Regions from separate parts of the Homo sapiens genome. Here regions 1 and 2 are each linked to region 3. Evidence: fine-mapped expression QTL. A gene starts in region 3. Each other region holds a variant in brackets. All regions are shown on one strand. Distances are from middle to middle.

Region 1 (2,766 bases), 22 kb after region 3:
CCAGCGTCCACGACATGTGAGCCCAGTCCCGACTCCTTCGTGCCTTAGGGTTGGTAGTTAGATGGGAGAGACCTCAGCGATCACCTGATAATAATACTTGTTTTATAGTTATATTTAGTGAAAATTCACAAGTGTCAGGATTGATGCCTTTTACTCATTTTGTTCACCATTTTGTTCATGAATTCCACCCAATATCTACCTGTGTAGTTGGAGTTATTAAATTCATTGTTATATGGCAGAATTTCCCTTTCGTAAGGCCTGACGCACACCAACTCCTGCTTTTGGGATGAGTGAGATTCACACGAAGCTGGGATAACAAAAGTTTGCCTTCTGTAAGACAACTCAAAGCTCAGAGAGAGACAGAGATGCTGGGGGCATAATAACGTAAATCTAAGTGATGTACTACGAGGCAATCACTGGAGCTGTGCTAAAAGTCTGACTGTCTCTGGGTGCTTGAGGCTTAGGTTGTTTTCTTTCATCTCCTCCTTTGTGTTCACCCATTTGAAATCATCTCCATTCAGGAGAAAACAAGATGGAACCCAGTGACTGGCCACCATGGACACATGCAAGGGAGAAGGAGAAGTCCCCAGTAGGAAAAGGTGAGTCGGAGGGAGAGTTTAAAGAGCCCACGAGGCTTAGGGCTGGAGCTTGGTAGTGAAGGAAGAAGACTAAAGAGGATCCCAGGTAGACTGAAAGAGGGGCAACTGCTTGGGCAGCAGCCAGGGTTGAGAACAAAGGTTGCCAAGACCTTTGAGGAACATGAGGGGCAACCTGAATAGGGCACAGGACCCACCCCTAATCCTTCCTCTATGGTGGATGCTATGGACATTGCAACAGGCAACTGGAACCCAAGGAAAGAATCCTTGAATTTCTTGCAAGTGACTACCTGGCTAATCCTCAGACAGACACTCTTCTCCAGTTATGGTTAAAGCTTTGCCCTTCTGAAATTAAGGATATGGTAAGGGGTTTCAGTTAGATGAGGAAATTAAGGCTTAAAGAGGCAAAGCACCAAATGCAATGAGAGGACCTTATTTAGATCTTAATTCAAACAAAGATACCATTAAGAGAGAGAGAGAGAAAAACATTAGGACATTATGAGACAATTATAATTTTCAAATTTAGAAATGACTAGATATTTGATGATAATAAGACACTACTAACATTTTACACATGATAATAGTATTGTGCAATATGTTAAAAGAAGTCATCTTCTAGAGATACCTTTTTAATGGGTATAATAAAATATTTATGGGTATAATGATGCAGTGTCTGCCATTTGCCTCAGATTAATGATGGAGTTGGAGAAGTTGGATAAGGTTATAAATGGAAGAAGGTTGGCTATGGGTTGGTCATTGCTGAGGCTGAGTGATGAATAGAACATGGTTGTTAGTAAAATTATTCTATTTTTGTGTATGTTTAAAACTGTGCATAATGTTGAGGTCTAGCAACTTGTCTGTTTCTGTGGCTAGTAAGTGACGAAGGTGAAAGGGACCTAAGGGCTGTTTGTTCCCTGAACCTGTGCTCTTGATGACTTTGCTCCTCTACATCCTTCCAACCCACCTAGGGCAGGAAATGTCCTCCCTAGCATCCCCCACATGTGCTCTGTCTTCTGTCTAGACACCTTCTG[A/G]GTCAGGCCATTTCACTGGAAGATTCCTCTCCACAATGAGCTGTAACTTTGATCCCCTTATTCTGCTTCTTGTCGGAGAAGGCTTCCCTGACCACTGCCACCCCAGGCTAGAGTACGTAGCCTATGCTAAGCTTCTAAAGTGATCTATACACTCCTTCATGGGACTCATCACACTGACAGTTAGTTACCTATTCAGTGTCACCTTCTCCTCTTGGCTACAACCCCATCGAGTCAGGGTCTTACCGGCTACATTTACTGCTGTGTGTAGCTCATTGACCAGATAATTTGCCTTAGATATATGAACGCAGAAGGGGTTGGCTCTCAGTATGGCCAGGTCACTATATACGGGTGAGTTCCCTGGAAGATTGGTATCCTGGGAGGCCCAGGTCAGAGGACCCACAGAATCCTCAGTTCTTTGCTCATGGTGCTTGCTTTGGGTTAGAGATCTATGTGGTGGGTGGGTGCATGGGAAACAGTGCAAGAATTAGATTACTTCCGTGGGGTTTGACATTTTAGAAGTAACCGAGTATTGCCTGTTATTTTTCAAGGCAATAGAAAAGAAAAAACAGTGAACGCAAACATGACATATCTAATCTTTATGAACCCACCTAGGGCACTTTGAGCCTAGATTGTCTTAGAATTGCTAAAGGGTGGCTGCTTTGTCAATTTATGTGCGTTTTTGTTTTCTGTGGGAAAGCTCCTGGGATTTGGCCAAAGGGGCTGGAATTACATGCAGTGGTCCCTAGGATGCCAGATGAGTGTAGAAAACCAGCTGGGATGTGCTGCGGAGGGTGCCCTGCTGAAATCACAGCCCGGGATTTTGTGATCTGGTTCTTAGGGACAGGGGGACATGTGGGCTTACAGAAATTGTCATACTTGAACTGTTCAAGCACTACTGATGGTAGTGCTTGCTGTATTTTGTATGAAAATATTTATTCATTTTTCTATTTTCTTTTTATTATGTAAAATCAAAGATAAAACACATTTAAAAGGAAACAAAGATGGGATGCAGTGGCTCATGCCTATAATCCCAGCACTTTGGGAGGCCAAGGCAGGAGGATTGCTTGAGGCCTGGAGTTCAAAACCAGCCTGGGCAACATAGGAAGACCTTGTCTCTAGCAAAAAAAAAAAAAAAAAAA
Region 2 (2,766 bases), 22 kb before region 3:
TAGATATTCTTTATTGGATTAAGAAAGTTTCTTTCTATTCCTAATTTGCTAAGCATTTTTTACAAATGTAATTTAATTGTTAAGTTAAAATTTATTTTTAATAGTCTGTTCATTTTTGCGGCACAATATTCAAAAGGCAGAAAAGGATATGTAGACAAACTCTCCCTTCCACTCATGTCACCTCATAACCTAGTTCTCTGCTCTGGACACTGTAACGAGGGTCATCTCACACACACACACACACACACACACACACACACACATTCCCCCTTTATTTTTCACCCAAATGAAGACATAATATATTACTGTTCTTCATTTGGTTTTTTTTCTCTAAGAGTTTTAAAATCAAAAATGAATGTTAAATTTTGTCCAATAGTCTTCACATCTATTGGGATGATAATATAGTCTTTCTTCTTTATTGTTTTAATATGATGAATTATGTCAATTGATTTTCTAATGGTAAATCACCCTTGTATTACCAGAAGAAATCTGGCTTTGTCATGATTTAGAAGGTTTTCCATACACGCCTGGATTTAATTTGTTAATATGTTTTCAGGATTTACATATATATTCATAAAGGATGTTGTGTCATAATTTTCCTTTTCTATAGGGTCTGGTCAGGTTTTGGTTTCAAGGTTATGCTAGCTTATAATATTTTTCTATACTGGGATAGTTTGTGCAAGTTGGACCTATTTGCAACTAGTCTTCACCTTGTGGGAGGATTTTAACTACTGACAATTTTTTAAATGGTTATAAGTTTTCTATCATATCACAAATCAGTTTAGGCAAATTACGTATTTTTAGGACTTTTTCTACTTCATCTAGGTTTTCAAGTTAATTTGTTATATTTTCTTTTTTGTTTTTTTTGGGAACAGCTTTATTAGATATACCATACAATTCAGCCATTTTAAGTGTACAATTCAGGGCTGGTCGCAGTGGGTCACACCTGTAATCCCAGCACTTTGGAAGGCTGAGGTGGGCAGATCACCTGAGATCAGGAGTTCGAGACCAGCCTGGCCAACATGGTGAAACCCTGTCTCTATGAAAAACACAAAAATTAGCCAGGCATGGTGGTCTGTAATCCCAGCTCAGGAGGCTGAGGGGGGAAAAATCACATGAATCGGGCAGGCGGAGGTTGCAGTGAGCCAAGACTGCGCCATTGCACTCCAACCTGGGCAACAGAGTGAGACCCTGTCTCA[AAAAC/A]AAACAAACAAACAAACAAATAAATAAAGAGTGTAATTCATAGGCTTTTAGCATATACACAGAGTCGAACTGCCATCACCACAAGCAATTTTAGAACATTTTCATCACCTCAAAAAGAAATCTGGTACCCTGTAGCTATCCTCCTGTGCCCCCATCCTCCAATCCCTAAGCAACCACTAACCTACTTTCTGATCCTACAAATTTGCCTATTCTTCACGTTTCATATAAATGTAATCATATAATATATGATTTTTTGTAACTGATTTTCTACTTAGCATGCTGTTTTTAAGGTTCATCTATGTTCTAGCATGTATCAATACTTCATTCCTTTTATGGCTGAATAATGTTTCATTGTCCGGCTATACTACATTTTATTTATCTATTTATCAGTTGATAGATATCTGGGTTGTCTCCACCTTTTAGCAATTACAAATAGTGCTGCTATAAATATTTGTGTACAAGTCTTTGTGTGAACATAGATTTTCATTTTTCATTTCTCTTGGTGTATATCTAGGAGTGGAATTGTTGGGCCATGTGGTAACTCTATGTTTAACCTTTTGAGGAACTGCCAGGCTGTTTTCCAAAGCAGCTGCACAATTTTACATTCCCACCAGGAGAGTATGAGGTTTCTGACTTGTCCACATCCTTGTGAATACTTACTACTACCTGACTTTTTGATTTTAGTCATCCTAATGGGTGTGAAGTGGTATCTCATTGTGGCTTTGATTTGCAACCAGATGCTTAATGACGTTGAACATCTTATCATGTGCTTATTGGTCATTTTTATATCTTCTTTGAAGAAATGTCTATTCAAGTTCTTTGCCTATTTTTAAGTTGGGTTGTTTGTCTTCTTATTAATGAGTTGTAAGAGTTATATATTCTACATATAAGCCCCTTATCAGATATATTATTTGCAAATATTTTCTTCCATTCTTTGAATTCTCTTCTCACTTTTTTTTTTTTTTTTTTTTTGAGACAGAGTCTCACTCTGTTGCCCAGGCTGGAGTGCAGTGGCACAATCTTGGCTGACTGCAATCTCCACCTGCCGGGTTCAAGCGATTCTTGTGCCTCAGCCTCCCAAGTAGCTGGGATTACAGGCACATGCCACCTCGCCTGGCTAATTTTTGTATTTTTAGTAGAGATGGGATTTCACCATGTTGCCCAGGCTGGTCTTGAATTCCTGACCTTCAGCCTCCCAGAATATCCCTTCCTGGGATTACAGACGTGAGCCACCATGCCCGGCCTCTTCTCACTTCTTAATGGTGTATTTGGAGCACAAAACTTTATTTTATTTTTATTTTTATTTATTTATTTATTTTTTGAGACAGAGTCTCGCTCTTTCGCCCAGGCCGGAGTGCAGTGGCACTATCTCGGCTCACTGCAAGCTCCGCCTCCCGGGTTCATGCCATTCCTCTGCCTCAGCCTCCCGAGTAGCTGGGACTACAGGCCCACGCCACCGCGCCCGGCTAATTTTTTGTATTTTTAGTAGAGACGGGGTTTCACCGTGTTAGCCAGGATGGTCTCGACCTCCTGACCTCGTGATCTGCCTGCCTCGGCCTCCGA
Region 3 (2,766 bases):
AAGGACTGGGGGCCAGGAGAGGCAGTGGGGAGGGGCTGGAGAGCAGGCCAGAGACTCAGGGACCTGGTGACTCACTGGAATAGAATGTCCTCTTTCCTTTCTATTTCCCAGTGGATTCTCTGTGAGGGCTGCAGGAGGAGGGAGTGAGAGAGAGAGGGAGGCAAATTCACACTGATTTCTCCCACCTGAGGTTTCTGGGTTGGGAAAGTTGACCCTAGGCTGCCGTGCAGTGTCGATTTTCTCTGCAGTGTCCTTCAAATCCACCCCCTTCTCCATTCCCATGCCCTGCCTAGCCCAGCCCCCTCCATCCCCCTCCTGGATTCCTGCCAGCCTGCTCCCTGCAGCCCTGCCCCTTTCCCAGGCATCTCCAGGCTGATTTCACAGATGAATCAAAGATGGGGAGGAGGTTCCCCGAAAGCAGGAAACGGAAAAGGAAGCCTATGCAGGGCAGGAGAGAACCCGCTGAGCAATTGCCCTTTATTCCAGTTCAAAAATGCGGAACCACTCAGACAATCTGCAGGCGGCCTATGGCTGCGTGTACACAGGAAGAATAGGCGATGAGAAATCAAAGGAACAAATGTTAAAGCTTGAGGCATAGTCTCCTGGTGCCCTCTATCACCCCAGTTAAGGAGGTGATGTTGGTAACTCAACCTGAAACCACAGGCCCTGCAGATCAGCCCGTCGTCTCCTTCCTCCTGGTCATCCCAGTTAATACAAACAATCCAAGGAATTGGCTTCCTGTCATGGCCCACAGCCTGCTCCATGTGGAGGAGGAGCCCAGGGCCCAGATGGTCTCATCATCTCAGAAAAGGGACAGATTGAGAATATGACAGGCTATCGTTTGCTCTGAAAAGTTGCTCTCCCATTCTGTGCAAAGTGCCAGTTTCCTAATGCTGATACTAAAGAAAGTTCCCTTGGGCCTTGGAGAAACTGAAAAGGACCCAGGCTATGTGAACTTGGGCCAGCCCTCTGCCCTTTCTGGCACTTTGCACCCAGATCATTAAAACCGCAGAATCAGATGGTCGCTCTGTGGTCCCATGGTAACTGGAAAGTGCACTGAGCTAGGAGTGGAGGGAGGGCGGTCCCTCCTCGGCCATTGCTCGTGCCTGTTAACATGGCTAATTCAGAATGGGGGGCAGGTCATTTAACTTCTATGACCATAGGATCTTTTTCTATAAAATGGAGGCTATATCGCTATGCAGGGTTGCTGGGGAGGTTATATGAGATCATGTCTGGTGAGGTCCCATGCCTGGAGTTATTGTTCTCACTACTCTGTTTCCCAGAATATGGACAAAGTGGGGCTAATAGCCCAGTCTCCTTTCTGGAAGTGGTGGGGGTCTCAGGAGGTGCTGGGTGTGAAAGGGCTCTCACCTGGCAGACTAACTCAGTTGCCTGGGCCTAGCTTATTCCCCTGACCTCCTGGCAGGGAGGAGGGTGGAAAAGGCCTGGGGTGCGCATGGCGGGACGGGATAACTGCTGAGCGGGGGTTGGAGGGCTGCAGTGTGGGTCCTGGGCCCTCGCTCACAATTGGAGGAAAGAATTCAGGAAGTGCTCACAGCTGCTCAGACATCTCGGAGCCAAGTTCCAACCAGGACAGAGGCTGCAGCACCCAGGGAGGAACGCCGTGGTCCCTGGGACGGCCACCAGGCCAGGAGGCTGCAGCACCAGGTACAGCCAGGGCTGGCCTTTGGGGAGCCCAGGGTAAATCTTAATAGTTCAAGAATGTGAGCAACGGGCTAAGCAGGCAGCAAAGAGGGTGGGTGAGGCCGGCATCTAAGAAGGCTCTTCCGGGACCTCCGGGTAAAGAGCCCCACGGTCATGGACAGGGCAGGGATTCCCGGGGAAGCACCTGATACTCTATCTAAACTGCATGATCCCAGCGCCATGCAGAAAAGGACGCCAAATGCAACCTGCCCCTGCCTCCAGCCCCCACTAAAGGCCCTGGCACCTGGGGTGACCCGTGAGTGTCCCCTGCCTTGCCCAGAGCTGGCGCATGCCTTCCTCCCTCCTCATGTCCCTGCCCCCAGCACAGGGCCAGGGGCTGGGGAGGCAGCAGATAGGCCAATTGAAGGACTGGCCCAAGGTCCCTCCTGGGGAGGAGCCGGGCTCCTCCTGCATCCATAGTAGGGGGAGTATTTTGTCTTTGGTCTGGGCGTAACTTGCTCTTGAAATCTGTAGGCGTCACCGGAGGGCCAGCGCTGGCTAGGCTGTCTCTGTGCAACGTCTTCTGACCCCTCCTCTCCACCTTCTCTGTGTCCAGGGAATCTGTGCTCACGTCTTCCAGGACAGTGCTTCTTCTAGAAGCTGACATGGAGCTGACCACAGCTCTTGGAGGCATGGCCTGAGGCTTAGAAAATAGACAGAGATCATCTGAGATTTCAGCAGTGGGGCCACGTGGCAGCGCCCGAAGGCCTGGAGCAGGAGCGACCCAGGGACTCAGAGCAGCATCTTCTTAGGAGACGGAAGGAGAGCCGCCGGAGGAGCACGGGGCACCTGCGATCGCGAAGAGCCTCCTGTTCTGGATGGGAGCGAAGGCTCCGAGAGGACCTAAGGTTGCTCAGTGGGCCATGGAAACGGCAGTGATTGGGGTGGTGGTGGTGCTGTTCGTGGTGACTGTGGCCATCACCTGCGTCCTCTGCTGCTTCAGCTGTGACTCAAGGGCCCAGGATCCTCAGGGGGGTCCTGGCCGCAGCTTCACGGTGGCCACGTTTCGCCAGGAAGCTTCTCTCTTCACGGGGCCTGTTCGCCATGCCCAGCCAGTGCCAA

Direction of the effects. Positions count from the first base shown, and alleles are read on the strand shown. Sizes are in standard deviations (SD) of each study's normalised expression. Not every link is listed here.
For the expression in subcutaneous fat of the gene that starts at base 1,594 in region 3, AAAAC is the low allele of the variant in region 2 and A is the other (moderate effect, 0.65 SD a copy in TwinsUK).

What was found. PIP is the estimated chance that this variant, and not a neighbour inherited with it, causes the effect.
Region 1: its variant is fine-mapped to the expression of SPAAR in visceral fat (GTEx, PIP 0.91).
Region 2: its variant is fine-mapped to the expression of SPAAR in subcutaneous fat (TwinsUK, PIP 0.95).

The regions. Positions count from the first base shown.
Region 1 is chr9:35,929,536-35,932,301 of GRCh38, forward strand. No RefSeq gene overlaps it. Among named protein-coding and RNA genes, the nearest start is that of SPAAR, 21 kb to the left of the region's middle. The variant A/G (reference allele first, on the strand shown) is at 1,628.
Region 2 is chr9:35,885,474-35,888,239 of GRCh38, forward strand. No RefSeq gene overlaps it. Among named protein-coding and RNA genes, the nearest start is that of OR13J1, 16 kb to the left of the region's middle. The variant AAAAC/A (reference allele first, on the strand shown) is at 1,200.
Region 3 is chr9:35,907,897-35,910,662 of GRCh38, forward strand. SPAAR (small regulatory polypeptide of amino acid response) reads left to right here and starts at 1,594. Exons shown (of 2, transcript NM_001348107.3): 1 at 1,594-1,668; 2 at 2,261-2,766. The coding sequence starts at 2,568. RefSeq lists an enhancer at 2,266-2,766.